7 separate regions of the Homo sapiens genome follow, and all the other regions are reported to be linked to region 1. The links are microRNA targets in miRTarBase. Many come from high-throughput screens and were not tested one by one. Region 1 holds a microRNA gene; each other region holds the end of a gene's coding sequence.

Region 1 (4,344 bases):
TTATCTTCAAGATTTACTCTGCACACAACAGTGTTAGATTTTTTTTGCTTCAACCATCAAACAACTTAGAAAACTCAGTATAAGGAAAGCCTACTTTTATGTACCCGTATTTTTGCTCACAGTGTTCTTTCTTTTTTCTTGATGTTCACAGGCTTCTTCTTTAATTGCTTACTTCCCTATTGCTTTCGAAAATTCCTTTTGTCCATTCTTTGCCATCTGTTGTGGCATATTATCTTAATTTCCTTTCATCTGAGACTGTTTTGATGTTCTCTTTATTTCTGATATTTTCACTTGGCATAGGTCACTGGGTTGACAGTTTTCATTTCATATTTGAGAAATATTGGGCCACTTCTTTCTGTTCTCTGTGATTTCTGATGAGATATCTATTATTATTAAAATTGTTTTCTTCTATGTAACATGTCATTTCCCCCTCGCTGCTATTAAGATTTGCTTCTTGTCTCTAGTTTTCAGAAGTTTATTTTTATTTTTAATCAGCAAATAATAATTGTGTATATCTCAGGAGTACAAGGTGATGTTTTGATATATGTATGTATTGTGGAATGATTCTTCAGGCTAATTAACATGTTAATCATAACACCCATGTACTTACTAATTTTTGTGCTATTTATCTCCAAAGTTAATTTCTCGTGTCTAACTGGAAATTTGTATCCTTTGACCAACATCTTATTCCCCATCCCATCTTCACTCCAGCCTTTGGTAGCTACTATTCTACTCTCTACTAATAAGAGTCTGACTTTTTAGATACCACGTGTGAGCTCATGAAGTATTTGTCTTTCTGTGTCTGGCTCATTTCATTTAGCATAATGTACTCCAAGTTCACCCATGTTGTCACAAATCACAATTTCAGAAGTTAAATTATGATGCGTCTTGGGTTTATAGTCTCTGAGCTTTAGTCTGCTTCTCGAATCTGTAGGTATATGTCTCTTGCCAGATTGGTGGTTTTCAGCCTTGACATTTTTCAAGTCCTTTTTAGCCCCACGCTTTCTCCTCTCCTTGTAGGACTCTTTGACATGAATGTTAGGTCTTTTACTATAGTCTCACAGGTCACTGGAGCTTCGTTCAGTTTTCTTTCTTTCTGCTTTTTCTTTGTTGTTGTGACTGGCTATTTTCTATTATTCTACTTTTTAGTTTACTGACACATCTTCCATTTCCTCCATTCTGCTGTTGAGTTTATTCACTGAACTTTTTATTTAAGTTATTTTACGTTCAGTTCTAAAATTTCCATTTTGTTCCGGTTTCTTTCTTCTATTTTTTTTACTGAGATTTTCCATTTCTTTCCTAAAGCCTTTATTTTTAAAAAAATTTTATTATAGCTACTTTTAAATCTTTTTCAGATAATTTTTACACCCCTGTCATCTTGGTGTTGGCATCTATTAGTTGTGATTTTTTCAGTCTCTTTGAAATCTTCCTAGTTCTCGGTATGATGAGTAATTTTGTTTGAACTTGAACATGTTCTACTGCATGTATCTCCGTATTTTCAACCCTTCTGTTTTTAACTGTCTTTCCCTGACATCGGTCTAGGAGGGGAAAGTGAGGGGTGCTACCCTATCGGAGTAGCAGGTCCCCCATTCAGCATTCATTGGCACCAGAGATGAAATTGGGACTCCTCTGTGCTACTGGATGAAGAGTGGGAGTTCAGGCTACCTAGATGGCCTCTACAGTGTCACCTAGAGGATGATGGTGGAAGTCCTGACCCTCCAGTGAGCTGCTTCTGACACCACCTCAGCAGAGAAGGGGTGGACACTTCATTACCATCAGGGGTGTGTGGAAGCCCAGGATCCCCACTTGGCCTTTGCTGGTGTGGGTGTGTCACAGCCTTTTTCCTGTGGTGGCTGGCTATAGTAAAGTTTTCTGCTGTGCTTGCTAGGTTGTTTCTTTCCTGGTCTTTTAGCTAGAGAGAGCAGATTATTATTTTTATTTTTTCTGTGTATGTTGCCATTTCTGGGTTGCCAGCTTATACGATTTGAGTCTGAGATATATGAGACAAAATGACACTTAGGAAACACACTTCCATGGAATTTCTTGGTCCCAAGATACCCAGCTGGGTTGCTTTTTCTCTCTACTTTTATAGTCACCTTATGTTTGTTTTATGTATAATTTCTAGAGTTTTAAGTTGTACATAAGGATCAAGAAATGTCTGTCTAGTCCATTTTTCTAGGAGCATAAGTTAGTGTGCTCATAGATTTTTAGACATTCAGAATAGAAAAAAAGGGAAACATCTATTTGAGTTTTTTTAAAGACACTTTTAAAGATCTAAGCTGATTTATGTTCTATAAGTCTGTAAAACAAGGCCCTTGCATTGCCAATGAATTTAAACAGGAATAAGACTTATTAAAGACTTATTAAACACACATGATATGGCATGAGCTGCAGGCCAAAGACATTGAAATCACTGATTTTCCACCTAAGGGAAATAAAGATTATGAAAATAAAGATGGTTGATTGTGTTGTCTAAATTTTATTGTCTTTAATGATAATGTGTAGATGTGATCACAGAGTATATAATAAAGTTTATATGAATATATGACATTGCCAAATATAGGTGTCTAAGTGAGAATAAGAAATAAGTGAAAAGAAAACTAAAATTAGTGTTAGATAACATTGTTTCAGTGTTGGACTGGTTCAAAAAAACTGTGTGATCTTGAGCAATTATTTTAATCTTTTTGAATCTCAGATTTGACATTTTGGGCTAGACTTAAAATTATTTTCCAACTCTAAGATCAGCCATTTGATATATATTTTATAACACATTCATATACATAAGAAGATGGTGCCACATCTTGAATATTTTAGACATGGAGGCAGTCTTGGTAGTAAAATAGAACATACTGCTTTTCAGGAAGCAGTATGATGTGGGAGAAATTAATAAACTTAGATTGTTTAGACATGAATTTGAAACTTAGATATAAGACCTGTTGTTTAGTAAGCCGAGGACATTTCTTAATCCTTCTACACCTTAATTTCTGCTGTAGAATATGACTAATAGTTTATGCCTCATAGGATGCATTTTGAGGAGTTAAAACGTTAATTCTTGTAAATCCCCCCTTGAATTATGAAATTTAAAAAATAAACCAAGTTTAAAATTGTGTAACTACATTCACTACACACATACACATTTGTATAAACATGAATGATAACTATATAATTAATCATAAGTTGCCTCATTTCCTCTTTTGTAGGAATAATAACATCTAAAGAAAGGCAATTTGTTTTTCATCTTTGTATCTCCAAAAGCAATATACCCAAAGTCTGATGCATTGCTATGTTCAGCAAAATTCACTGAAGAAATGAGTATACGAGTAAATAAACTAAAAGACAAATTATAAAAAGGATGCTCTGAATAAAATGAAAAAAACAAAGAGCTTAAAAAAAAGAAAAGGCCAAAATCAAAATTTTGCTATTTTGAAGGCCTCAGCTATCCAGGGTAACTGATATTCCTATCCAGTAAGATAGGAATGATATTGCAGTAGGCTTAATAGTGTTTATTTCTTACACAATTCCTTTGATTTAAGTCCACATACATTTCAGTGATGGTTCAGCTTGGTTAGTCTTGCAAATTAAAGTATTACTGAAGCCAGACTGTCTGAAAAGAGATGTGTTCTTACAGAAGAATAATGGTCAGTATCTAGGGCAACTAGTGTATTCATCCAGAAAATAACTGGTGTCCCTTCAGCATGAGATACTGATACTGATGGATTGATTTAACATTTCCTAGAAACTTTCAATTTTTAGGCATCAGATAGAATTTATCAAAAGGCCAGCAGCCACCTCTCCTACCTGCCTCATTGTATAAATTCATCTACAAAGATTAAAATAACAGATAGCTAACAAAAGCCATTCTGCTCATATATATATATATATATATATGAGCACATTTCTTCCAAATTAACTTTGCTTACAAACTGAACAGAGGGAGAAGCATACAAATAAGCTTAAAAATATTTCCTTTGGTGAAATAATTGAGCAGATAAAAGGAAAAGTAGTTTTAAAAGTTTCATGTTTGAATTCATAAAATTCTCAAATAACTTATATTAATTTTTCTCTTCTCTGAATTTCTTATTTTTTGTATTGTTCTTGAGCAGGTTATAATGTGTTTTTTGTAAGTTTTACACATAAGAAAACTAACATGAATTTATTTGAGCTTGAGGCAATATTTCCCTGTGTTTGACTCTCTGAGAACATTTAAAATGATAAAAAAGATTAAAACTAATTATTATTTTAACCATTTAAATATTATTTAAACTAGTTTACAATAAAAACTCAGGTATTGTATGACTACAGCTAAATAACTCAAGCATGTGCTTTTTCTGAACTTCCTAGCAA
Region 2 (4,344 bases), not on the chromosome of region 1:
CACTAGAAAGTTATGAAGAGGACAGGGTATTAAGATTCCAAAACAAAATTAGGTATTTCTGTCTACTAAATATCATTCTGAAACCTGACACACTGGCATTATAGGGTCCAAAAAAGTAAAATTATATGCATTACTCACTTCAGTAGTTTTTGGATTCAGAGCTAACTTTCTAAGTTACAAAGAGCAAAAACATGTTGCTGAAAGATCTTGCCTGAAACTACAGCAAAGGTGTTTACAAAATCTTTTCTGATATTCATAGGAAAACAAGCAATTTACTGTATTGGAAAAGGAAAACATATGATTTCATTTTGCATTTCCTTTAAGAAAACAGCCTTATCTGATGAGATTTGGGTAGCCTGTAGCCAAATACTTCCACTGTGTTCCACTTTTGCAACCAAAATTATCAAATGAATTTTATTTAAATGGAAAAGTCAGTTAAAACCAGAATATCCTTTGTCCAATCAGTCAATAAACTATTACCATACTGTCAATTTTCCATTCCATAAACAAGATTTCAAAAACAGGTATGAATCTGGGGTAGCAGTGGTTTGAAAATTAGGATTCAATTTAAAACAGAGCTAGAATCCAAAATTTACTTGCTGAAATGTTTAAGGTCTTTAATTTCAAAACACTTACTAAGCATAATATATCCAGAGATTGGCAATTAATTTTAACAATTTAGGTCTTTAGTAAAATTAATGTGGGCAGAAAATGTTACTTCATTACAAAGTGTTACTATATACTTTGTCTTGTGACTAACTAGAGCTTACAGGAGTATAAACAAGTTAACTGAATTTTTCAGTGGCTGAGGATTTTGTATACTTCCTCATTTTGAACTTCAATCATGACTATATAATCATATTCATACATCTGAGACTGAACTAGATATAAAGATATCACAACACCCACTAGAACTGGTTAATTAGATATGCCCATTATTTCTTCACTATTTACCGAAGAAAAGTATGAAGAAAAAAAGACTAATTTGGTTTAATTATGGTTACATAAAAATTATGTAAATATTCAAACATTTGATGAAATCATCATACTCCAACCATAAAGAATTGTAATTCCTAATGGTTAAGCAGCTTTCAGATATCATTAATAAAATACATGACTGTCATTAAAAAAATTATCATTCAGTGCTATTGATTTTATAAATAACCTTTTAGGTTAGGCCCTGCCATACCAAATTTCCTTCCTGCCTTTTTTTTTTTTTTTTTTTTGAGACAGACTCTCGCTCTGTTGCCCAGGCCAGAGTGCAGTGGCGTGATCTCGGCTCACTGCCAGCTCCGCCTCCTGGGTTCACGCCATTCTCCTGCCTCAGCTGTAGCAGCTAGGACTACAGGCGTCTGCCACCACGCCCAGCTAATTTTTTGTATTTTCAGTAGAGATGGGTTTTCACAGTGTTAGCCAGGATAGTCTCGATCTCCTGACCTCGTGATCCGCCCGCCTCGGCCTCCCAAAGTGCTGGGATTACAGGCGTAAGCCACTGCGTCCAGCCCTCTGCCTTCTTTTAAAATAAATCAGGTAGACCTAAACTAACTTAAATGTTCTCATGAAAATCAGTAAACAGCTTGGTTTTGTATTAACTTTTAGATCTCCTCAGGAACCTACATGTGACAAATTCCTAAGTTTAACACCTTAATATTACTAGTAAGTAGCATGAGTGGTAGACTATGTCTGGACTCCACATCCTGCCACTTCCATTCCAGTATCTGGACCACATCACCACTAGGAGTATGGAGTTAATCATCAGTATGACACAGCATTGAAATTCTAAGCACTGCTGTTACTAATTTTGTTAATGTATGCATATAAACAGGTATATAAACACTAAAGCCATAAAAGAGCAGTATCTATTTCTTTAGTACTAAAAGAATTTCAACTGTTAGAAAAATGAATTGGCTTAAGAGACAAAAACAAAGCAAAACAAAACAAAACATGCATCTTGAAAGTTAAAAACAAACAAACTGAAGAAAAAGCCAGTTGAAGTATTTGGATTTAACTTTACCCAACTAAGACATTCACACAACATATGCATGTCAGTCTCCTGTTCAGTCCTAGAGCCTGCAGTATTGTAATTTATTGTAAAACCATGTAACCAAATACTTAAATATATCCACAACATCTATACCACAGAAATGCATAGTACATAATATACTAACATCTCAAAATAAACTTCTATTACAGTTTTATGCAAATTATGGTAAAAGATTATCACCTGCCACATTTTGAAATGGCACCAACTTCAACATCAATGCACTAGTCAAAATCCTTACTAGAAGTGATGTCTTCTGCATTATCATCTGAACATTCAAAATCAAGCTGTTAATCTAATAACCACAGTATGTTATCATTTAAAATCACTGTATATTTGGATGTTAAAGCAGGTAGTAATACAGCAGGAAAAGTGTTTCTAATTCACAGTTTCAAAACTAAAGGGTGCAGTTTTCAAATATCTGATTGCTTAAATTGGTCACTCAATTTAACAACTGCCTCCTTCAATACATGTAAACTATGTTTGCACAGCATTAGGAGATGTCTTTTATTTCAGAATTAGTTCTTACTGTTACAGGAGCACCACAAATTTTAAGGAAGAGGCTACAGTGTGAAATGAGCTCACTGAAGGATATGTTAAATAAAATTTTAACTACAATATAAGGTACTGCAAAAGCTTTGTTCCCCAGCACAGATCCCTTAATCAGGAAAAGTAGTGAACACTTACCCAATACAATATGTAAATTCGCTCTACAGGAGATGGGGAAAAACCTAACTCAACTAAAAGAAAATACTATTATTAGCTAACAAACCTGTGATAGCTGGCTTCAGAATTTTCCTAAAAATAAAATTCAAAAGCATACACAGTATTTATATCCTTTGATAAGGAATGTAGACATCCAAACGGAATGAAAGAAAAATCTGGTTTTAAGAATTTCTAAGTGGAATCACACACACACAAATGGGTAACTGAGAAAAACTAAATATTCAAAATTTAAGTAAGAAGATTTATAATAGAAAAAAGTGGCAAATTGTTACTGTGACTTGATTTTCTGAAAACATCTGCAAATTCACACTGGCATTAAGAAAACCCAAGTCTCAAAAATTCTCCTTTCTTTCTCTCCAGATAATGTGTTTTCTGTGCAAAAATAAATATCTGAAAATTGCACTAATACTTATTTTAACTTCTATATTATGAATAATCTGCACATGCTGCTTTACAGACGATACATATTTGTAAACTTACTCATGCAAAATTAGTGTGCGCAACAGGGATATTGTTAATTTTCATACTTAAAAATGATACCTTATTATCTTTTAAAAATTGCCAAACTCTCTGAAATGGTTAACAAATCTTATATGGATATTCTTGTCTGCCAGCTAAAAATCAATTTATGTTGCTGAAAACAAAAAGTTATACAAGAAAAAGAAACATGGTTTTTGTTTTGCAAGATTTTTGATTTTTAAATGAGAAAATTTATAAAAGAAAGAAATTCATGGTCACAAAATTTTAACATTTTAATCCTAAACATTACAGGGTAAATAGATACTGGACCCTATCTCCATACTCCATAAAATCCTAACTTTTAGTTTCCATTTCAAATGTTGCTGTAACCACTAAAACACTAGTGGTTTTACAACCTCTGGATTATGGAAATACACATTTCTGAAATAAATGCTACAAAAACAACAATGGAAGAAAGCCAAACAAACAGTCTCCATGAAGGAAAAAAAAGTGGAACATTTTGAAGCTTTTAGACACTTCTCTTTCCATGTCTTATGATTAACCTGTCAATTCAGTGCATTGTATGGTCATATGTAATGGTCCCCATGGTGAACAAACATCTAACTAGTGTCCATTGATTCCAAGTTAGTAGATGATGAATCTTTCTGGATACTTTCAAAGATAGCCGCCAGCTCAGGGTTAGAACTGATCTGTGACTGGAATTCACTCATCAGTGGACTCTTCTCTGCTTCTGGAATGGTTAGCAGTGCTGCTACTGCTCTCATGGCAGATCGCTTTAATTCATCTTGTTTTTCAAACTCCTGCTTTACTGAGTTTGCCTTTACCTGTAAGATGGAGTAAACTTAGATTACATGCTATAAAAGACAGCTCTTACATGAACAAAATTTAAGCACATAAGATCTTCCTGCTAAAAGCTACTCTCGTAGGTCCATAAGGCATATTACATTCTAAGAACAACTGTTTTTAAACTTATTTTTAAAGTAGCTGTCTCCTTTTCTTTTAAGGGAATATTTTACACAAAGCCCCATTATAAAAACAGAAAATCTAGACCCAAATGATTGTAACAAAGAGAGTAGGACACTCTTTGTTTCAACTAT
Region 3 (4,344 bases), not on the chromosome of region 1:
CCTGGGGGTGCACCCCAGCCCCCACAGCCAAGGGCGGTGCTGCTGTTTGACCTCAGGTTTGACCTGAGCGCTGCTGTTTGACCTCAGGGATCCCCCGCATTTGCTGCCATGCTGGCAGTACCATCCTCCTCAGCTCAGAGTGACTGTGTCTCTGCCCAGGCTCTTCCTGGGAGCCAAGGGAGGCCCTGCTGCCGGCAGCTCTCAGCCCACCTAACCCTGCCTCTCTCACCCATTCCTCCACCCCAGCCTCACCCCCAAAGGCCTGAGCCCAGCCATGTCGCCAGCCCTACAGCGCCTTGTGAGCAGGACGGCCAGCAAGTACACAGACCGGGCCCTGCGGGCCAGCTACACACCATCCCCAGCACGCTCCACCCACCTCAAGACCCCGGCCAGTGGGCTGCAGACCCCCACAAGCACACCGGCGCCTGGCTCTGCCACACGCACCCCTCTCACACAGGACCCGGCCTCCATCACGGACAACCTGCTGCAGCTCCCTGCCCGGCGCAAAGCTTCGGACTTCTTTTAGAGCCAGGCCTGGGCTGGGCTCATAGACGCTTCACAGAGCCTGCAGGGCAGCTGTACACCCAGCAGAGGACTCCAGCCTTCTCGGGGCCCAGGCCTGGGCCAGAAGCTGTTGACCATACCAGGAGTCACTGGAGAAAGGGGCTGTGCTGGGGCCAGACTGGCACAAGGCACTCGTGCCCACACCACACCCCAGGGCCTTGCCAAGCTGTTTGCTGTTTAATTGGCCCCTTGAACTGTCATTAAAGAACACCTAGGTACAGTCTGGGGGGTTGCCTCTCCATCTTGCTCCCCACACGAGCCCTAGCCTTGCCCTGGGGCCTGCATCACGTCTCAGGACTGCGGGGCTTGAAGCGAGGGGCCCCCCAGGTGAGGAAGCTGCAGGTGGGGCGGCTGTGGGAGCACCGGGTGACTGGCGTTGCTTTCTGCGGCACTCGGAACCTGTGTTCTGAGTTGAGCTCACATCCTGCAGTGCTTTCTGCTTCTCTGGGGGGATATGAAGGAGAAACGGAGCCCTTGGAAGTTGTACCCTTAGGTTCCCCTGCGGTTCTGGGCCCAGGTCTGCAGCCTCCACTCTGGGCTTGCCGGCTGTGAGGTGCGCTGGTTATAGGACTGTGTGGGGGCTGCATATCAGGTGATCTCAGCTATCACCTTCTCCCAGCACCTGGCTTCCAGCTCATGGGGTGGGACTATCCCACTCACCCCTCTGCTATAGGCACTGCCCATCTTATGCTGCTGGCCCTGGCCTCACCTGGTCACTTCCACCAACAGGAGCTCCCAGATAACAGTGGGTTGCTGGACAGATCAGGCTGGGACTCTTAAGGGGTGGGGGACGTGGGGCCTTCAGTGCTTTATCCCCTAGGAAAGGGTGCACGTTATCCCAAGGGAGCCCCCAGGAAGTGGGGAGGGAGGGGGGAGGAGCATGTCTAGGTGCTGACCACCTGGAGCACTTGGCCAGCAAGTGGGCCGCATGCTTTGGGAGCAATGGGTGACCCAGCAGGAAGCACAAAAGACCGGCCAGTGTGCCATCATCAAGGGCTGCTGAGCAGCTTGAAGAGCCACTGGGTGGGGAGGGCACACGGGGAGGTCTCAGCTGGGGCTGCCCCTGGAGGACAGGGCAGGGAACTTGAGGGCTGAGGACAGAAATCTCACATGACTCCAGGAAATAGAGGAAGAGGAGGATGCTGAGCGAGGGATTGTGAGGGAGTGGGGGTAGGTCAGAGGGGGCTGAACTGCAGGAAGCCAGGGGGAGTCGTGGACCACTGGAGCTGGCCAGCCCCAGGGCATTGGGGACAAGGCCAGGTCAGAGGGAGACAGTGTGGGCCTGGTGGGTGGACCCTGGCAGAGGCCCTCTTGTCCCCCACAAGGCCAGGCCACACTGTGATTCTGCCTGTACCTGAGCATCTGTCCTGTGCTCCTAGGCCGGAGACCACTGTGTGTCAGGTGGGGCGGTTGGCTGAGTCCCAGAGAAAAACACTCCTCACTGGGCACTCTTGATGCTTGCACACACCCTGTGGTTTATTTGGTGGTCAGTAAGGAACGTCTTTGCTGCTAAGTGGAAGAAAGCTAATGGAACGTAATCAAAATAGTGGTTTAATTGACGAATTTTACTTGCACCTGTGCCTTCTTCAGATCCTACCTGCCTACTTAGTTTACGTGAAGGCCGACTGCACCATGCCCCCCAACCCCGACCCCCACCACACACAACGGGGCCATTGTCATGCTAGGTGCTTGCTTTCCCCACCTCAGCTCCGGAGATGTGATGGTCTTTGGCCCTGGAGGTCTCGGCCAGCCTGTCCTCCATCCTGTTCTCGTTCTCGGGCACCACCAGCAGCCGGTGCTGGGTTTTGGCTCCAAGCTTGTGGTCGGGCCGGTGGTCGGGCCTCAAGCCTGTCTTGGTGTCCAGTTTGCACTCAGCGCGGTACTTGCCCTCCCCCTCCCTCTTGAAGGAGGCAGAAGACGTGGCTTTGGGCTTGGGGGGCTGCAGCCACGAGTGGCTGAGGATCTCATCGATGTGGAGCCGCTGGCTGACGTCGGGCTGCAGCATGCGGTAGATGAGGTCCTTGCACTCGCAGGTCAGGTTCTTGGAGCGCGGGAAGTCCACACGGTGCTCCTTCTGGATACGCAGCATCTTCCTGATGTCGGAGTCGTCATAGGGCATGGAGCCGCAGACCATGATGTACAGGATCACGCCCAGGCTCCAGATGTCATACACCTTGGGCTGGTAGGGGATGCTCTGCAGCACCTCGGGGGCTGCATATGCTGCCGACCCGCAGAAGGTCTTGCTGAGGATGATGCGCCCATTGCTGTCCCGCAGGCAGCGCTTGGAGAAGCCAAAGTCAGACAGCTTGATGTTGAAGTCCTTGTCGAGGAGAAGGTTCTCGCACTTGAGGTCCCGGTGGACGATGTCCAGGTCGTGGCAGTACTTGACGGCGGAGGAGAGCTGTCGGAACATCTTGCGTGCCACGTCCTCATGCAGGGCTCCCTGGCACTTGATGAACTCGAGGAGGTCGCCCTGGACGCCAAGCTCCATGATGATGTAGATCCGTCCGTCAGAGGTCTCAAAGATCTCGTAAGTCTTGATGATGGAGCCGTGGTTGACAGTTGCCAGGATGTCCATCTCCCGAGGAAGGAATCTCTCCACAAAGTCAGTAGGTGTTTTCTTGCGGTCGATGATCTTGACAGCCACATTGAACTTGAGGCGCTCAGAGTAGGCAGATTTGACTTTTGCGTAGGAACCCTTGCCAAGATTGATGCCTACGATGTAACCCTTCTTCCTTAGGACTGTGGCATCGTCCATGGTGCCAGGAGCGACTGGCGCCGCTGCCGTCTACATCCCCCCGTCATGTGGGCCAGCAGGCATTGTCCTCATTTACACTACCGGAGGCGTCTGGCTGGGCTGCCCTGGGCTGGGCTTCGACTCAGGGGTGGAACACTCAGCATTGTCTCCGGGTGACTTCAGCCAATGAACTCATAAAGCCAAGGAGTGGGGGCGGGGACTGGGCTGAGGGAGAACAGGGTCTCTGGAACCGTGGAAGCCAGGCTGGTCTGGCAGGAGCACCCACTCCCCGCCCGCTGGAAGGAAGCCTGTCCCCAGGACAGGACTCTGGTGGCCCTGCTGCTGCTGCATTGGTTTCCCTGTCACAAGTCAAGCTGGAGGGGAGGCGGCCCACGTCCAGCCTGTTTGCATCACCTGGCTGTGGGGACTGACCCTGCATTGGTCTTTGTCCCACTAGGGTGGGTTTCCTGCAGCTTCTTTGGCTATGAAGAAAAGCACCCCCAGGGCTGTGTCCTTGGTGTGGTAGGACAGTTGTCCCTGACAGTCACCCAGACAGGCCTGCATAGCACCCCAGTTACACAGACAGATTTCCACAGCACTGCCTTACCATTGAGCACATAGTTAAATCTAGGGAAATCAGTGCCCAGACATCAAAGCTAGAAATGAAACATGGTCAGCAGGAGCCTTGCATGGGCTTCTCTTTTGCTGGAGCAAGCCAAAATAATAGGAACGGTTTTACATTCCTAGTGCCAGGACCCATCTCGGGTCGACAAAATCTGAAGACAAGTTAAGGGAACAGGCAGCTGTTTGAATAGATCAATTGGATAGTCTAAGGCAGCTCTCTGGACCAAGCTGTAAAGGAGATACAATCGAAATAATCACTCCGGTACCACAGTAGACAGGCCTTGAAGGCACTGGGCCCCTTTTAATCGGACTTAGCAAGCATTTTTTTTGCCTCTGACCTTCTCCTTGGAACAAAATTAGTTACCAGTAGACTTAGGTGATTGCTGTACTGCATGTAGGCACATAACCCCAACCTATAT
Region 4 (4,344 bases), not on the chromosome of region 1:
TTTAAATTGAGGGTAGAAATTGGAGTGCTCTTGAACAGCCTTTTCCAGGAGGCATAGTGACTTCCTTTTCCACATTTCCTTATTTTTGCTGCATTGGTTTGCAGATTAAAAATCTATCCTGGCATCCTTGGAAATTATTTCACTCTTTCAATAGATCTGTCTCCGTTTTTCAAGTCTGTCAGCAACATTTATTGAGCACTTGCTTAAAATTTCTGTTCACCAATTCTAATTTAATTTCCATGGATTGTCCATCTTTTATGAGAACACAAAGGGGAAATTGATAGTGTTTGCATATTCATTTTGTGTGAAAACGTAATGAGAGAAAATCATACCCAGTTTTTTAAATTTGCAAAAGATAAAGTTTCACATTTTTGTCGTCATAGCAGGCAGTTCTTGAGGAAAATATTAAATGCATACCTTAATTACTCATTGTAGGAGAAAGAGCACAATAAAGAACCAGATTCAAGTGTGAGCAAAGAAGTAGATGACAAGGATGCACCAAGGACTGAGGAAAACAAAATACAGCACAATGGGAATTGTCAGCTGAATGAAGAAAACCTCTCTACCAAAACAGAAGCAGTATAGGACCGACAAGTGTACCTCTGCACTCAATGCTGGAATCAAATCCAAAGCTTTTAATTCTCTCAACAAGATGTAAACAGGAAAGAAATCTAGTTGAGCATGAAGATAGGATCTAACAGCTTTTCCAGTTGTTAGATGACTTTGTGGCCATCTTGTTATTGAGTAAGAAAATAAAGCATGGACATCATGAAAATAACAGATGTTACCCAAACTCATCTTCTAAAATCTGTGCATTTCCATGGTGGCTGACACACTTGTCATGTGGTCTGTTAGTGTTTGCCAAGAACCATTGCAAATAAATTGAACATCAAAGATCCAAGTTTGTACTATCCCTAAAGACTGGAGATAAGCATTGGAGGCTCTTTTAAAAAATGCTAGTTACTGAATTTTGTATTGTTTTACTTTTTTTTTTATTTCAATATATACAGTTTGATGATGTGCTTGAAATTGGTGCAAATATATACACACCCTTGTAAGTGCAAAGTATGTAAGAAGTTTTAACATTTACTTCACAGGACTTGTGATTGTGTTAAATTCTCACTATTGTGTTTTCTTTTGCTCACTGTTTAGGACAATTTTTCTTTAAAATAGTTTTGCAGATTAAAATTGCTTAAATAAGTGGATTAAAAAACTGACAATGCATGCTACTGTTCTCTTTCAAAAGGAAGAGCAACCGTGTTGAATACTAATAATGATGAATTAGTATTCAGTGTTTAGAATCATTGGGACTACCCACAAAGTGAGCATTTCTTTTTAAATTTTCTTGACATTTCCAAGCTTATTATGAATAATATTGCAGTGTGTCTTGTCAGCTGTAGGTGGCAAAGGTGCCCTTATAAAAAAGGAAACTGGCTTTTCAAAATGGGCTATGGGAGCACAAGCTGAAGCTTTAGTGCCTTCTACAATGTGGTATACTGTTTTCTAGAATTTTATATGTGCTAGTCATTCTCAATTCATATGGAATCTAGATGGATATTTCATGCATACCCATAGAGAAGTGTGTAAGTGATATGTCAGAAGAGCTTCTTACTGATTTCACCTAAAATGAGAAGGAAGTCCTGTTTTCAAGAATGACATTAGAGTCATGCAGCTTTGGGACCATCAGTTTTATACTGTGATAATTGAAAATGAAACATGTTCTTATTTTCCTTAAATTGAAGAAAACCCTTTAGTTGTCTACATTGGATGGCCTTATTACCTCTCAATCATCTTTTCATAAATGATGTGCAGAAATTGTACTTAAGGACTTAGGAGTATATGGGAGGTTATTGGTTTTATGTTTAAGGATACGTTTACTTGAGTTTAAGATACAGGTCATCCATCATTCTTAGGCTCACTTTTTACAGAAAGTATGCAAATAGTAAAGTGACAGCACTGCTAATGTTTTTCCCCAGTACTATAACTTGTGGTTTCTGAACTCATTATTGTTGTATTTCCAAAAAAGTAATACCTTTTAATTAGTGTATTAAAAGTTAAGTATAATTATTTTAATGCAATCTAATACAATCAGATTACTCAGTTGCCTTACCTCATGGGAAGAGTTACTTTTTTAGATCTAAAAAGCTGAATAGCATGTTAGTTACTTGGTTTCAACTTGAGTTTTCTTTTAATGTTAATAAGATTGAAACTTTAGTATTTAGTGGGGAATGGAAAGAGTTGCCCTTGTTGCAAGTAATGAAGCCTGATTTGATTATGAAGCTGCTTAATCACTCTTCATGTGTTCAGAATTACTGTTTTTTTTGTTTGTTTTTCCTTTTTGTCACTGTGTACATTAAAATTTTGGAAGATGCTTTACTATGTAAAGTATAGATGGTCATTTTAATCATTCAGCCACATACGGTTGGCTGGTAAACAGCTTATTCTGATACAAGAATGCTTGGGTGCATATGGAAAGATTGTGAAAGAGTGTGTCTTGCATCAACAGCTGTCTTATTTATGATATATAAGTAGAAATAGAGCAAATGTTGGAATCTGTTATTTTTAGTACCATGTCTTTAATAAAGCTAAGTATTTTAGAGGAAAATGTTTGTTTATGCATTTCAAAAAAGCATTTTAGTTTTATCCTGCTCATTTTAGTTGTCATAGAGATTGTTGTGACGTGGAGAGTGCATGTTTGTGTGGTGTCTATAAAACAAGTCATTTAAAGTATGAGTGTTTTCTTGTACTCTGGACCTATTACATGTTTCTTTATGTTGGTAATTAACATTTAATTTGGTTCTTGCTGCTAATTATTTTCTCTGCTGATATTTATTAAGCTTTAAAATAATCGTACTATAATCTTGAAACACTGATTTGTAAAAACTAAGAATGAGTAGGAATACAAGAGATCTGGAGGAACAAATCAGATTGTTATTAGGGTTTGACTTTTTTTTTACATGGGCTTATGGAAGCAAGGCATTCTAGGGTCTAGAGGGATGTGTGTGTGTGCTTGTGTGTCCATGTGTGCGCATGCGCACGTGTGTATCTGTTTGAGACATACTTTCTCTGTTCACTTAAAAGAGCTCATGTTTTCATTTGTTTATTCTTTTCTTTCAGGGTATTTTGTTTTTTTCTTTAAGACTTCTTTTTTTAAATCCCAGGTAGATGTTGTCAGATAAACTTGAGGTAAGGCCAAGAAGACAGACATTTTATGCTTCATACTTTCTGTAATTATCTTTTGTAGCTTGATTACATAGAGTACCCTCTCTTCCTTAAGTTGTAGTTGCTATTTATCATTGTAGACAAATTCTGTTGCCTTTCAGCAACGTATGCTGAACTAGTATCATAAGATGGTGCATCAGTTCATAAGCTAGTGCATAAGTTTTGTGTCAAAACTTTTAAATCCTGAAGTTCTGCAGTTATCATCTTAGTTATTTTCTATCTAATTAGCTTATAATTGCAAACACTAGTCAGCTTGTGATCTCTGTGTTTCAAGTTCTTTTCTTCACGAGGTTCAGTACCTGCTATGTTGATCTTTGGCAGTGCCAGAGGCTTAAATTTTGACCTGCTCAATTAAAAATAAACACTGGCGTTTATAATGAAAAGGTTTTTTTGTCGGGGGGGGGGGGGTCAAGAGAATTTATTTTGTGATAGTAATAATTTTCAAGACCTTCAGTCATTCCTATGTCTATGTTGCTATCTTTATTTTAAAACTTAGAACCCTGATCTAACTCCCTTCTCAAGTGAAGATACTGTGTAGATTCAAGAATTATAATGTAGAGTAATAGGCCTTTAAGTTTTTTTTTAATCTGTTAGAAATAAAGAGCATGATTTAATTATTGTTGAATTAACAATTAAAATGAATCCCTTTGGAGGGATGGCATTGAATAACTTATAATTTCAGTGAATCATTTACGTTTTCATTGGAAGACAGTATCTGATTTCAACTGGTGCGTTACGAAGTAGAGCCATTCCCACAAAGTAAATGTGCAGTGCCCATGTTTCTTGTGTTTAAATATTTTTTATTTTCACTACATATATATTATTTTCTCATGTTTATTTACTAATGTAATTTTCACTTAAAATTAGATGTTTATTTTCAAATTTTAAAAGCTAGTGCTCTTAAAAGAGCTAAATTATATTTCTGGAAGCAGGAGTTTAGTATAAATGTAATAAAATTTTAAAATAAAATTGACTTCCCTACTTAATCTTGGGTTTGTGGGTGAGTTTGTTTTTAGTACACTCTTATTGGTGGTTTTGCCTGAAGAGTAATACATTATTATTATTACTTTTCTTTTTGAGACAGGGTCTCACTCTGTCACTCAGGCTGGAGTGCAGTGACAC
Region 5 (4,344 bases), not on the chromosome of region 1:
ACCATTTAGACTTGCCAGGCCCACGGAGATGACAAAAAACTCAGCTCAGCATGGAATAACGTGAGCTGCGCACTTCATCGACAGCCTGCGTGTCAGAGGCGGGGTTACATCCCCACGGCCTGGGGCAAGGCCCACTCCCTAAGCCCTCAATTATGAGCAGGTTCTGTGCTATCAAGAAGACACACAGCCAACAGCCTCATTTAGGCTCTTGAGCCTTTGGAGGACAAGTCAGCTGTATCCCAACCCTCCCTAGCCTCCTGGATCTCTGCTTCTCTCTGGGCAGGAAATTGAATACTCTCCCAGCAAGATCACACAGACACATCCATGGAAGAAGCTGAGATGAAACATGACTCTCATAAACAGGAACTTTATTAAACTACATGTTACATAAAAGAACATATAAATGGACCATTAAATACATTCAGTTTATTTTAAACAAATTTACATAGATACTTATTTACATTTCTCCATTGTATTCTTAAATTATTTTTCCAAGCTTACTACCGATAAAAGGTAATACAATGATCATCTGCTCACACAGATGCATAGAGAAGTTGTCCACAGGGCTAAGTAAAGCACCACTTCCCAGGAAACACAGCTTATTAGATCTTCCAGCAACAACTCATGCTGAAGGTGCTCTCTTCTGAGCAGCCCTTGAGGTGAGGCTTTTGCTTTAGAGATGCTGGGGGTTGGTTCTGAGGAGCTGACCCAGGGCAGAGATGGGTCCTTGCTGATTGACCTGACTTGGACTCACAGAGGTGGAAAGACCTGTGGAGACCATCATCGAGGCCATGGCCCCACATCTGTGATATGGGAAACAGGCTTGGGAAGAGGTGGTGACTTCCCAAAGTCACCCAGCATCCATGATAGAGGAAGGGCCTGGGAGCTTGGTACCCAGGGTTCCTCCAAGAGGTCCCGATCCCTCTGCTATCCACAAATCCACAAACTTAGAATCACTTGCATCCATTTTCCACCACCATGGACCTTATGCTTTGAACTGTTTTGTCTACCTGATTAAATATATAACTTCTTAGGCTTCTTGAGATGGTGAAAAGCAGCTCAGGATTCCCATAAGCAACTTTGTGGAGCCCTGGAAATACCTACTCAGGGCTGTTTTTACAAGAGGTTTTGTGGTCAGGTGCTTTACTATTTCAGCCATAACGTTTACCTTTAAAACTCAGCTGACTTATGGAAGCTCAGCATTTCCAATTCGCTTAGATGACAGGCAACAGTCTGCAGAAGGGAGGTTCTAACGTCAACCACGTGGATTCCCCACAAACGCATCATATTTGCCTAAATCCATCTATCTACCAATGTCAGATCTAAAATGAGGTTTCACTAATAAGTGACCTAAAATTAAAAAAAACACAAAAAAGTTTCTTAAAAAAAAAATTCCAAGAATTTCCCCGTTTCCCAATTAGTCTCAGAGGAGTCGTGAAATGGGCATTGGGTAGAAAAAGTCCCATGTTTTCAACTGTTTCTTTTGAATAAAGCCTGATTCCCCCACTCTGCCCCCGAACTTTTCCCGATGATATACATTCTTCTGAAAGCAATTTCATGCTTTTAGTCTGCTTTAAAAAACCTGACTTGGTTCTTCTCAGTATTTAAAAACCACTGTACCAAGGAAGAGATGTCCACGTTAAAAACTATTATTAAGAGACAGAGACAAGGAGAGAGAGACTCTCTCCAGGCCATGTTAGAAAAGAAGGAAGTGCTGGGAGCACACAAAGAGAGAAGAAAGGCTGGGAGACAGAATGGTTTGCACCTCCCTGTAACCAGAGTGAACACAGGTCATAGCAGCCTTCACTCAGTTTTATAACAGACACACGAATGGAGGAACATGGGATTGGAAAGACGCACACTGTCAAACAGCCCTGATGCCTTTCCACTAAAATATGGCACTTCTAGATTCCAGAGAAATCCAGCATTCTACCAGGGGCTGCCACCCATCTGCAGGGAAGCCTGCCCTGCAACCATGAGGCCCTCAAGGCTCATACTCCACTGCTCACAATGCGCGCCCTGAATACATGGAAGCATCTGATTTCTGTCTGAGTCCAACTTTCCCTCCTGTTCCTAGACAGACTCACACCCAGAGTCATGCACGGAGAAGTGGGCAAGCCAGACAATCTTCAGGGAGACACAGCCCATCACAGGATACCCAAGGCTTATGGGGAAGTCCAGTTGCCAGCAACGGACCCTGTGTGGGCAGGTGAAACTCTGAAGCCAGAGAACACAGGAAGATAAAAATATCTTCATACTGAGGATATACTGGCCAAGTGTGGTGGCTCACACCTGTAATCCCAGCACTTTGGGAGGCTGAGGTGGGAGGATCACTTGAGCCCAGGAGCTCGAGATCAGCCTGAGCAACATAGTGAGATCCCATCTCTACAAAAGATAAATTAAAAAAAAACAATTAACCAGGCGTGGTGGTGCACGCCTGTAGTCCCAGCTCTGAGGGAGGCTGAGGTGGGAGGATCACTTGGGTCTGGGAGGTCAAAGCTGCAGTGAGCTATGATTGTGCCACTGCAGTCCAGTCTGGGAGACAAGAGCACGACCCTGTCGCAAAAAAATACATATGTATTTTTTTCCTGGGAGGCATTTCACTCTGCAAAAGGAACCAAAACTAGAACATTTCATTTTTGTTTTGTTTTGTTTGAGACAAGGTCTCACTCTGTCATCCAGGCTGGAGTGCAGTGGTGGGGTCCTGGGCTCAAGTGACCTTCCCATCTCAGCGTTCAGAGTGGCTGGGGCCACAGGCATGTGCCACCACACTCGGCTAAATTTTGTATTTCTGATAGAGACGGGGTTTCTCCATGTTGCCTAGGCTGGTCTCGAACTCCTAGGCTCAAGCAATCCACTCATCTTAGCCTCCCAAAGTGCTGGATTACAGGCATGAACCACTGCACCTAGCTAATTTTTATATTAAAAAGAAAGTCTTTGATATATAAAAACTGGCCTGAAAAAAACTTTTTTGACTTGTTTCATAAGAATGTCACTTTACACTCCTACTAAATCTTTCTCGGGATCCGGGCTTTGGGGGAGGGTGGGGTGCATGGGGGAGGTGCGGCCGTCACAGTAGTGAACGTGCATCCATCTGGACGCTGGACTGCAGCAGGGCTCAGCACAGCAGGCTGCAGTCCACAGGCCTCCTGGACTGTGCCATCCCAACAGCGTCACTAGCAGTGGCACCAGTGGCTGCTTTATCTGTAACAAAGACATGCTGCCTCTTTCCCCATCCTCGTCCCAGAAGTCAGTCTTCACCGTCTGAATCCCAGGAGGCAGGAGAGGACAGGCACCCATCACTTCCGTAAGGGATTGAGGATTCTCCCCAGCGTGGTCCGACTGGAGTCCTTCCGACGGAGGGAGGCCCTTTCCCCAGCCCCTCTGGCCTTCAGAGGGGCCTCCGTGTTGGCACTGGGACCCTCCGCAGACTCTGGGCGCTTCTTGGGGGCCCGGGCACTGCTGGCTCGCCTCAAAGTGCTGCTGTCCTTGGGAGCGGCATCCTCGGGGTCCCCTTTCACCCTCAGCTGCCGCTGCGACACTGTCCGAGTGATGCCGGGGGCTTTGGCCACGGGAGGAAGATCTGTTCTCATGCTTCGAGAGGAGGAGGCCACTGTGTTCCGGGCAAAGCTCGGGACACGGGGTAGTTCGTGGGGGACGCTGGGCACTGACGGGGTCTTGGGCTCTTCTTTGGGACTCTCAGGGCCCTCGGAGTGGGCGCGGCAGGTCTTATTTTCCTCAGGCTTCTGTCTGGGGAGGTTCCTGAGTGGTTTGGCACTGGGCTTCTTGAAAGAACCCCTGGGCTGCAGGGGAACGTCCCTCCCCGGACGGGTGCTGCTGGAGCCGCTGCTCCCCCGCGGCAGCCTCTGCTCTTCGGCGCCTGTGGAGGCCCTCCGCACGGAGTTCTGGCGTGACCACACAGTATCTGTGCTGCTGGGGGGATTCTGGGAGGGCCCCCGGGATGACAGCTCTGGTCGCCTCCAGCCGGCGCCTCTGCTGGACTTGGTGATGGGCATGACCTTGCGCATGCTCTCGTTCTCTGAGGCGGTCAGGGTCCGCACAGACTTGGCCACTGCCCCCTGGCTCCGCCGGGCGCTCCCGGGCTTGGAGGCCCCGGGAGACGCCTCTTTCAGGGAGCCTCTCTTTGGTGCTACAACATCTTTCCTTTTGGTGGGTTTGTCCCTGGGCAGGCCGCCCTTGCAGCTGGGCTCACTATCCACAGAGACGGGGGCAGGAGCCTCCCCAGGGGGGCTGGATGTAGGGTTGGAGGAGACTTGGCTGTCCCCCATTTCTCCAACCCCAGAGGACATGGAGCCATCCCCTTCCCCGCCTTCCTCCGGGTCC
Region 6 (4,344 bases), not on the chromosome of region 1:
CACCAGGATTTTAAAGTCTCTTTTTTTTTTTTATTTTTCACAAAGGATTTGCTGTAAGTCTTCAAGTCATTTTGTCCAATCCAAAAGCTGTATTTAAGCGTCGTGGATCCCAGCCAGGGATGCAAGAATCTGACTTTCTCAAACAGATAACAACAGTCGAAGAACTGGAACCGAAAGCAAATAACTGCACTAAGGTATTCATTACACTTGTGCTGCCCGACCTCGAGTGTCACCATGAAGAGTGCGCTACCCAAGCTATTTCCTTCCCCTTCAGGTTCTCGTGTGGCACACTCGGACAGAGAAGGTTAATCTAGCCAACGAGCCAAAGTACCACCTGGACACAGTGAAAATTGAGGTATAAATTGAAGCAGCAACTGGTGCAGTTTGTCCAGCCAGTGGATCCATATGGAAGAGGATGTTTGGAGTTTAGGCTACAGAGCATTCAGGTATTGTTTGTTTTACTTCAGTACAGCAGCCTTTCTTGTCATCTGATGGACATCTGTTTAAATGGAGCTTGTCAGTTAACATAAGCTAATTGGATGGTTGGTACAAAATGTATGTTTTGTCTTCATTTGTTCTGCATGTTTTCTCTACAACAACTAAATTGGAAGATTTTTTTGTACAGTGCCGATACTGCAAGATACCACTCTTGAGTATATATTTTTTCTTTTTCTCCAATTTGCCCTTATAATTGGTAGACTTGAACAGGTTGGTAGACTTGAACAGGTTTTTAAAACAGACAAGTATTTTGTCAGCTAAACGTTCCTGATGATTCCTGACTTTGCAATACTAAGTAATTTTTGGAAGGTTAGTGGCAGTATACATCATAGGAAATAAAAACCCACAAATGAAAAGGTCTATGGAGTCATGTTTAATGTAGGGAAATAACATTTTGTCAATACTAGGCACCATAAAATGTAAACACAATTACTGTCATAAACCTAGATATACCTTCAAGGATTGAAGATTGAAAGTGGCTTTGTTTTAGTTAGTTACCCTGTTTGCATATAGTGCAGAAAAAGGTCTTCATGTTAGCACTATGTACATTAAGAAGAGATCCAAATTACAAGAGAGGCAGATAAAATTTGAATTCTTTAAGCATTCATTAAACGAAGTTTTGGAGTAACATCCACGTTTATCTTCCTTTCACTAATCACGTTCCCTGTTAAGCACATCATAACAACAGCACAGTGAAGTGAATGATGAAATAAGAGCATTTTGATACACTAGAAAACAGTGCTCAGTGAGACATTTACATTCTATTTATATGATTAAACATTTGATCATACAGTACCTTCCTACAGGATTACTGGCTAATTTTGGGGTGGGGTTTATACTATTAGAGGTATTACTAACATGATAACTACTTCCCTTATATGCAAACATTAGAGCTATAATTTTATTGAGAGGAAAACTGATTTTGCAAGTTGAGCAGCTTCTCAAATAATGCAGTACATGAAATCATGGGAAATATGAGCAAAGCTGCCCTTGACATAAAATGATTTATCAACCTGCTTTTCACCACATCAAATTGAATCAGTACAGACCAACACGGTCAATCAGATCATTCTTAATATGAACAAATGGGTAAAAAGAAAAAAAATATGCATATGAATAAACAGGGGAACTAGATGCGTTTCAGCAAGGAATGTCAGGTGGTAGTTCTGGATGAAACTTGTATTGCAGTTTTCATTTCCACAGTTGTGTGCTGAGAGTCTGACCTGATGAGCTTCCAGACCATCCTGCTGTTGTGCTGGAGGGCTGGCCAAAACCTGCAGTAGGGGTTGCACTACTGATACTCATGCCAGCCATCTGCTGATTCATCTGTGAAACATATAAAAGGCTTAGTTCAAGAGGCTTACTTCACTTTTAATTCTTGTTTCTTTAGCCACACAGTTGGTCATTTTTTCATTAATGTGACAACTAGTCCAAGCACTGGAATAAAAACAGAGTACCATACAAATATTTCTTAAAGCAAATAGCTACTTTGTTCCCTTCTTTATCTACTTTCTAGATACAGTTTCCCCAAAGATTAACCACAACTTACTTAAAAAAAAATACCAAAGCAATCTTGGGATTTTAATGAGTCCGCTACTCTAACTAACTTTCACCTACACTAGGATATTGTGCTTTAACTACTAAGGAGTAAGAAAATTTTAGGAAGTAAAATAGTCTAAAATTATCCTATAAACTTTGTATGATAGATATTATTCTCTATTAAAATCTTATATACTTCCTAAATATTTTTAAAGTGGTCATAAAGCATTTATTTCTCTCGCTGATCTAACAACATAAACATCTAAAATTTATTTTCATTGTATGCAATAAAGCATAAGATTACATGTATTTTTCTTCAAGACTGGAGTCAAATATATATATATATAAGCATCTTAACCCTGTGATTCTCTTACTTCCAAAATTGGTGATAAGAGAAGGAAAGGCAAGATTTACCATATAGTGAGTGGGTTTAAAACTTACACTCAGAGTTAGACTGTGTTCTTAATTTAATACATTTGACTTGACTTATTTACAGTTTCAAAGACACTAACATAAACTACATCACTAATCAGGCATAAGTGTCTGAAGAAGCAGATCACGTCTTCATACCTACTAAAGGACATTTTAACCACCTTGTCATTGGCCAGTAGATTGCACTGATGGAGTGCTGGAGAACAGCATCACCCTTCTGCATTATCTGGAAGTAAGAGCCAGTATTAACTCCTTCCTGGTTCATCTAGCACCTTAACCTGAGCTGGGTGTGCTTCAGCATGTTGACCATGTGACTGACACTTAGCACATACAATTTTTTAGATTCCCAGCGGGTAGAGACCAATGTTTTACCTATATTCTTGTAAATGGTGGTAGCAAAATTAACTGTGATATATAGTGATTGTGCTAATGTTAGAAATCACTCTAGACTATTCCCTGAATGCTCTAAAGGTAAAACAAGTGACCAAACAGAAACCAAGATTGCCAAAATGCTGGAGGAACATCAATGGGAAGTGTAAAAGGAAGAAGAGTGGGAGCATGAACCTCTCTAAGAGCCTTTGTCTGTGCAGCTAGAGAAAAGTCAGAACACAGCACCTGAAATAGAAATGTTCTATCTCAGCTCTAACTTAGGTAGAAATAGGATTTTATAATATGAGGGGATGTCTGGTTCACACCTTATGGGAATTGAATCTTTTTGTACTCTTTTTAAACATAAAAGTCATTATAGGGTATGTAAAAAGAAAATACAACTTTACAAAGGTTTCTCAACAAAAAGAATTTTTACAGAGCCATGGGGCAGTAATCATCCGACCTGAAAAATAGCCTTAGATCCCTCATAAAATAGTGCTTTGAGAATATGAGGCTAGATTTTTATTTTCTAATAAAAGATCCTAAAATTATTAGTGAAGCTAAGTTGTCTAAGTGGACTGTAAAAATGTCCCACCAGCAAGCTGGATAAAGCTTAGTGCTAATCTCAGAGGTGACAGAGAGGGAGTCTCATGATGCCTGAGATAATTTCTGGCCATTAGTGGTGTTCACGTTACAGTTACATTACAATTTGAAATGAAAGATGTTTAACCTTTTTTTTACAGAATACTCTAAAATAGCGATAATAACACATCATTTGTCTATCTGATACAACTTCATAATATTTATAGATACTTTTGACCCTATAACATATTATCCCTATTGAATTCTTTCTGCCAGATCACTAGACTTAAAAAAAAAAAAAAAAAAAAAAAAAAAAGATTTAGAAAATAAATCTGGTTTGATTTGGGAGAAGCTAGAAAGTAAATGACCCCTACCTGTGAGAGGCTCCACTGGGGCTGCTGAGCTTGCGGCAGGCCAAACTTACTCTGGGGTGCACCCATTTGTCCCACCATTCCTCCTTGGGGGCCAACAACGTTCTGAGGAAGTGGCATCACACCAGTTTGTGCATTTCCCATAAACCCATTGGGCATGGGCATGCCCACCATCATGCTTGGACTCTGTCCCATCACATTTCCTATAAGGCCAGGAGCTGCAGGCACAGGCACGCCCATCGATGGAAAGCCCTGAAATGCAGCTGGTGCTTGTGAGGTAAATGGTATATTTGTGGGTCCCATAAATACACCTGCACCACAAAAAGAAAATGAATGAAGACAGAGCTATCACGTGTAGTTGCACTCATCTCTATAATCACAGAAAAATTGCCTTTCTGAACTACTCACAGCAAACATTTTAATTCCAGTTTGGCTGCTCCTACTACTCAGACCAACCCACACCTAAACCCTGAGAGCTGGTTGTTTCTAGGATGCAGACAAATCAGTTATTAACCTGAGTAAATTTAATTAAGAAATGTAAATCATATGCAAC
Region 7 (4,344 bases), not on the chromosome of region 1:
ACCTCTATGTTGCCCTGAGTGCTCAGCCCATTTCAACTGGGCAGGTGGAGAGTGTGGTCACCTGGATTGGCTACTTTTGCTTCACTTCCAACCCTTTCTTCTATGGATGTCTCAACCGGCAGATCCGGGGGGAGCTCAGCAAGCAGTTTGTCTGCTTCTTCAAGCCAGCTCCAGAGGAGGAGCTGAGGCTGCCTAGCCGGGAGGGCTCCATTGAGGAGAACTTCCTGCAGTTCCTTCAGGGGACTGGCTGTCCTTCTGAGTCCTGGGTTTCCCGACCCCTACCCAGCCCCAAGCAGGAGCCACCTGCTGTTGACTTTCGAATCCCAGGCCAGATAGCTGAGGAGACCTCTGAGTTCCTGGAGCAGCAACTCACCAGCGACATCATCATGTCAGACAGCTACCTCCGTCCTGCCGCCTCACCCCGGCTGGAGTCATGATGGGCCGCTGGACACTCGGAGGGATATGGGGCTGGGGCCAGTTATGATTGCAAGGACCACCTTGTGGGATCACCTTTTCCCAGCTGGCTAGGGCTGAGGCTGGGGTCTCTGCACACAGCTTTTGCTTAGTGTTTCCTGGGTCAGGAACAGAGCCAACAGGATGAACGTGTGCAAAAGCCTTGGACTTGGCTGTGATCTTTGACTGCTAGGGGAGGGAACCTGGGTATGGTGAGACGGTGACGAGAGAAAAGGGTCACAAAGGTGAGGTGAAACCTCTCAATTGGTGAAATTTCCATGCTTCCAGAAGCAGGGAATTCTCTAAGGGTAGGAGTTGGAGGATACAGGGCAGCAGGCCAGGTTTGGAGTTATTCTAGGGGCCATTTAGGATATTTTATTTTTCAGTGTAATTGTCCAGGGCAGTAATTGCACCCAAGCAAGGTAAGAAAATGACCCATGTTTTCTCATTTCCTTGCTAGGTTTAAAAAGAACTAAATTATAGCCAAGTGTTTCCACTTGAGTTAATAGATCATTTTTCTGGTTTTATACCTGAGATTTCCTTAAAATGAGAGGACCAGTAGGGTGTATTCCTTTACTGAGTTTGGCCAGAAACAAGGCAAAATAGAAATTAGGGTACATGGAGTAGAAGATAGGAAAGCTGACTGCAGCTCTCTCTCTCCCACCCTTCAGGAAAAGCCCTTCTGTTCTATTTTTCTGTCTCTCTCCTGCACACAGGAGATCAAGGGTAGAGCCTGATCTTAGCAGAGACAAGAATAAGGCAGGATGGCTTTCCTCTCTTTTAGGAGGAAGAATTAGAATGACTGGGGGTCAGACGGGCGAGGGTGGAGGTTAGCATTTGAATTGGTAAAGTAGCTGGAAACAGAGAGGCCAGGTAATCAGCCTGATCAATAATACTGCGAATCTTTTCTTTCCAGGACTGGCCTCCCTGATCTCTCTCCTCATGGCAGCGACCCACCTCCAGTCCCCTGGACAATCGGGTACAAGAGACTTAAGGTTGGGCATGGGAAGGGTGGGGTTTCCATGATCCATTAAATGCCTTCCTACTCCCATTCATCGCTCTCAAAATTAGCTTCAGTGACAAAGACTTAAATCTCTCTCCTATCTGCAGCACTGGGTTGGAGAGAGGGCACGGGAGTTGGTCTTGGCTGTTCATTGATTGAGACTGTAGGAACTGTGTTGGTTGGTATTGGTGGTGGTATTTTCAACAAACAGGGAATAACTGCAAACTGGACAGGACACCCATCTGGGACCACCTGTCCATCCTACTTCCCTCAATTGAATCAGGTAACACTAACGGATCAAGGCAGGGCCAGAGGGTGGTGTGGTCTCTATTTGAACAAATTCCTGGCTCACTGAGCATCAAAAGGGGAAATGGGCTGGTGGGAGTGGGATAGTCTCCCATTTAAGCAGCTAATAAATAATTTTTATGATAAAAGGTTATACTGATAACAACATTGACTCCTTTAGTTCAATTCAGTGCATAATAGTTGAACACCCACTAGTCCCTGGGACCCACACAGGGCGTGTGGTCATTGCTTTTAAGGAGTTCATAGTCTAAGTTGATGAGATACCTTATATTTTCACAAAGCACTTTGATTTGATAAAGCACTACAGAATGTGCTTGAGAAATATATTGGAGAATATGTCCATGGCTCTAACTTCTGAGAGTTCAGCCCGTGGCAGCAAGATGCATACCTTGAAGCTTCCTGCAGATTGTGGAAAGCATAGGGGTTGTAAATGAAACTCTCTAATGAAGAAAAAAAATTAAATGAAACTGGGCAAACAGCTTTCCCCCTTTGTTCTAGGAAAATTTCTAGGTTGTCTTCCTACCACTAGATTATTATACCAGTCTAGTGCCTATTACATTGTGGAAGTTCCCTAAAAACATAGTATATATAGGGAGGAGAGTCCTTTGTGATTGAAAAACATGTTCACCTCTCCTCCCTATTAAAATAAATGCATACAGAGGAATCAATCATTCCTAGACAGGGAAAAAACTCTTCTTTCAAACACCACTGATCAGCTATTAGATCCAAGGAATTGCCAGCAGGTGGCAGTGTGAGCCCAATGGAAGGAGGAAAGGCGAGTGTACGTGGTGGGAGGAGGAAGGGGAGGGCATTAAACATTGCCTGGCAGCCATTTTGTTAATTTATTTTGCCTTTTCCTTTGACTTTGCCCTCCAGCCCTTCCTTCACATACATCAAAGAAGAAAGTTTTAAGAGCAAGGGTATCTTTAATTCAGGCTGAAATTTCCTGACACTGTGATCTCACTGGTGTTTATTACAGAGTTTGACATACATGGGTTCATTTGCCATTTATTTTTCCCTGTAGGAGTGGATCATGAAGGAAATAAAAATTTCTCTTTTATTATGCTGAGAACTTTCCCAACAATTTCTGCTATGACCACCTTCCAGGAGTTTTCTAGTCACCAGATGCCTTGGTAAAGTTCAATACGTAATCTTTGGCTCTGAAAGCTGTTCCTGGACAAAATCTGAGCTAACTCACTGAAGAATCAACAGATTGAGGCAACCATCCGGTCAGTTACTTTTTCCTGCATCCTGCTGGTGTTGGGGTAACTCCCAATCCTAGATGAAAACCTTAGACTTTCTGTTGTCAGGTGTCCCCAGGCAATATCCTACGGGGGCATGATAGAAAAGGGTAACTCTGGGGTCAGATAGATGTACTTACTCACTGTGTGAAGTTGGGAAAGCTGCTTAATTTCTCTGAGCCTACTTCCTCACCTGTAAAAATGGGGATCATTATTACCTACCTCACAGGGTTGTTGTGAGGATTAAGAGATGGGATGTGGGAGCACCTAGCCGTATCTGGCAAATAGGTACTCAATAAATACTGGTTTTACTTCCCTTTCCTCTTGCCCTTTTTCCCCAAAAGTATTGATAATGGAAAAGCAGTCCCTTTCATTCTTAACAGTCATTTGGGAATGACTGGGGGACTTTTCAAACCTTGAAGAATTGGCATTGCTAAGAGTTAAGGTGGACGAGGCTTTTTAAGGTGGCTCTAATCCTCTAATTAAATCCTTCTAATTAATGAATCATCACTATATAAACCTCTCTGTTGGGACCTTACTTTCTCAAGTTCAGATTCTATTAGAGAAATAAATTTACAATCACAGGGAAAGGTTTTAGGGACTGAGTTCCCTTCGCTAGAACGTATAGTAATTGTGGGCTTATTTGCCTGAAAAGTTGATTTAGGACTACCTTCACGCAGTATCCAGGGTTATTAGTGAAAGATGCTATCTGCCTGGGACTTTCACAGTGGACTTAAGTTTCAGGTGATACTAGGGCTGAGAGGCAAATTTTACTAGAACCTCTCCTTTTGCATGTTATCGCAACAGGAAATTTTAGTAGGAGATTCACAGGATGCACTGGTTTGTTTCGGGGTGTGGAATTGAAGTTGACTTATCTTGGTTTTAGTTCTAAGACCCTAAGGTAGGAAGATCTGAATTATACTGGAGAGAAGGGCAGCATGGAAATTTTATGGAGGAACTACAGGCTTACCTTTCAGGTTATCGAGTATCTGCTAGCGATTTCAAGTGGCCTTTTGCCAATATAGGAGTTAAGCAAATCTCAAGCCCACAGAAATACGTGAATAGCAAAAGGACCAGGGGACATTTTGAGAGGAGTCAGTGGGCCAGAGACGGCAAAAAGTTATTGCTGAGGTCCTAAGCACAGTCGGTGTTACGATCTCAGATGTGAGACGTGAACGGCGCCCAGGCCGGATAGCTTGTTCCCATTCCATTGATCTGAGATAACCCCAACGGAGGCAGTGTCCCATACTTGGGTAGGGGTCCCGAGTCTCCACAGCCAGAGATCAAAGGAGTTTTCTGGCAGGCGAGAAATTACCAGCAGATATTCCCGCGCGGGATGTA

What was found. The annotated mature microRNA hsa-miR-7157-5p reads UCAGCAUUCAUUGGCACCAGAGA and lies in region 1 at 1,591-1,613, shown strand. An mRNA with a match to its seed (bases 2 to 7 or 8) in the 3' UTR can be bound and repressed. Matches are read on the target gene's strand: a 7mer-m8 pairs with bases 2 to 8, a 7mer-A1 pairs with bases 2 to 7 and ends in A, and an 8mer does both.
Region 2: the mRNA of CAND1 is a reported target of hsa-miR-7157-5p. Seed matches in the 3' UTR shown: 7mer-m8 at 2,530-2,536 and 7mer-m8 at 1,767-1,773.
Region 3: miRTarBase lists ESS2 as a target of hsa-miR-7157-5p. Seed matches in the 3' UTR shown: 7mer-A1 at 1,704-1,710.
Region 4: the mRNA of SREK1 is a reported target of hsa-miR-7157-5p. Seed matches in the 3' UTR shown: 7mer-m8 at 611-617 and 7mer-A1 at 3,330-3,336.
Region 5: the mRNA of FHDC1 is a reported target of hsa-miR-7157-5p. Seed matches in the 3' UTR shown: 7mer-m8 at 1,923-1,929 and 8mer at 1,197-1,204.
Region 6: miRTarBase lists B3GAT2 as a target of hsa-miR-7157-5p. Seed matches in the 3' UTR shown: 7mer-m8 at 2,978-2,984.
Region 7: the mRNA of GPR61 is a reported target of hsa-miR-7157-5p. Seed matches in the 3' UTR shown: 7mer-A1 at 2,825-2,831.

The regions. Positions count from the first base shown.
Region 1 is chr2:140,583,932-140,588,275 of GRCh38, reverse strand. MIR7157 (microRNA 7157) reads left to right here and starts at 1,591; the gene lies at 1,591-1,650. All of the region lies in intron 43 of LRP1B (LDL receptor related protein 1B), which reads left to right. RefSeq lists a silencer at 1,763-1,812.
Region 2 is chr12:67,312,333-67,316,676 of GRCh38, reverse strand. It overlaps CAND1 (cullin associated and neddylation dissociated 1), which reads right to left. Exons shown (of 15, transcript NM_018448.5): 15 at 1-4,071. The coding sequence ends at 3,847. Among named protein-coding and RNA genes, the nearest start is that of CAND1, 45 kb to the right of the region's middle.
Region 3 is chr22:19,130,378-19,134,721 of GRCh38, reverse strand. It overlaps ESS2 (ess-2 spliceosome associated protein), which reads left to right. Exons shown (of 10, transcript NM_022719.3): 10 at 247-4,344. The coding sequence ends at 526. It overlaps TSSK2 (testis specific serine kinase 2), which reads right to left and starts at 3,414. Exons shown (of 1, transcript NM_053006.5): 1 at 2,100-3,414. The coding sequence starts at 3,322. The coding sequence ends at 2,246.
Region 4 is chr5:66,178,284-66,182,627 of GRCh38, forward strand. SREK1 (splicing regulatory glutamic acid and lysine rich protein 1) reads left to right here. Exons shown (of 12, transcript NM_001077199.3): 12 at 436-4,344. The coding sequence ends at 585. Among named protein-coding and RNA genes, the nearest start is that of LINC02065, 29 kb to the right of the region's middle.
Region 5 is chr4:152,975,679-152,980,022 of GRCh38, reverse strand. FHDC1 (FH2 domain containing 1) reads right to left here. Exons shown (of 12, transcript NM_001371116.1): 12 at 352-4,344. The coding sequence ends at 3,300. Among named protein-coding and RNA genes, the nearest start is that of FHDC1, 42 kb to the right of the region's middle.
Region 6 is chr6:70,857,680-70,862,023 of GRCh38, reverse strand. B3GAT2 (beta-1,3-glucuronyltransferase 2) reads left to right here. Exons shown (of 4, transcript NM_080742.3): 3 at 46-194; 4 at 275-4,344. The coding sequence ends at 361. SMAP1 (small ArfGAP 1) reads right to left here. Exons shown (of 11, transcript NM_001044305.3): 10 at 3,795-4,102; 11 at 21-1,824. The coding sequence ends at 1,690. Among named protein-coding and RNA genes, the nearest start is that of B3GAT2, 97 kb to the left of the region's middle.
Region 7 is chr1:109,543,942-109,548,285 of GRCh38, forward strand. It overlaps GPR61 (G protein-coupled receptor 61), which reads left to right. Exons shown (of 2, transcript NM_001393907.1): 2 at 1-3,319. The coding sequence ends at 437. Among named protein-coding and RNA genes, the nearest start is that of GNAI3, 2.5 kb to the right of the region's middle. RefSeq lists enhancers at 1-288, 4,201-4,260 and a silencer at 2,450-2,686.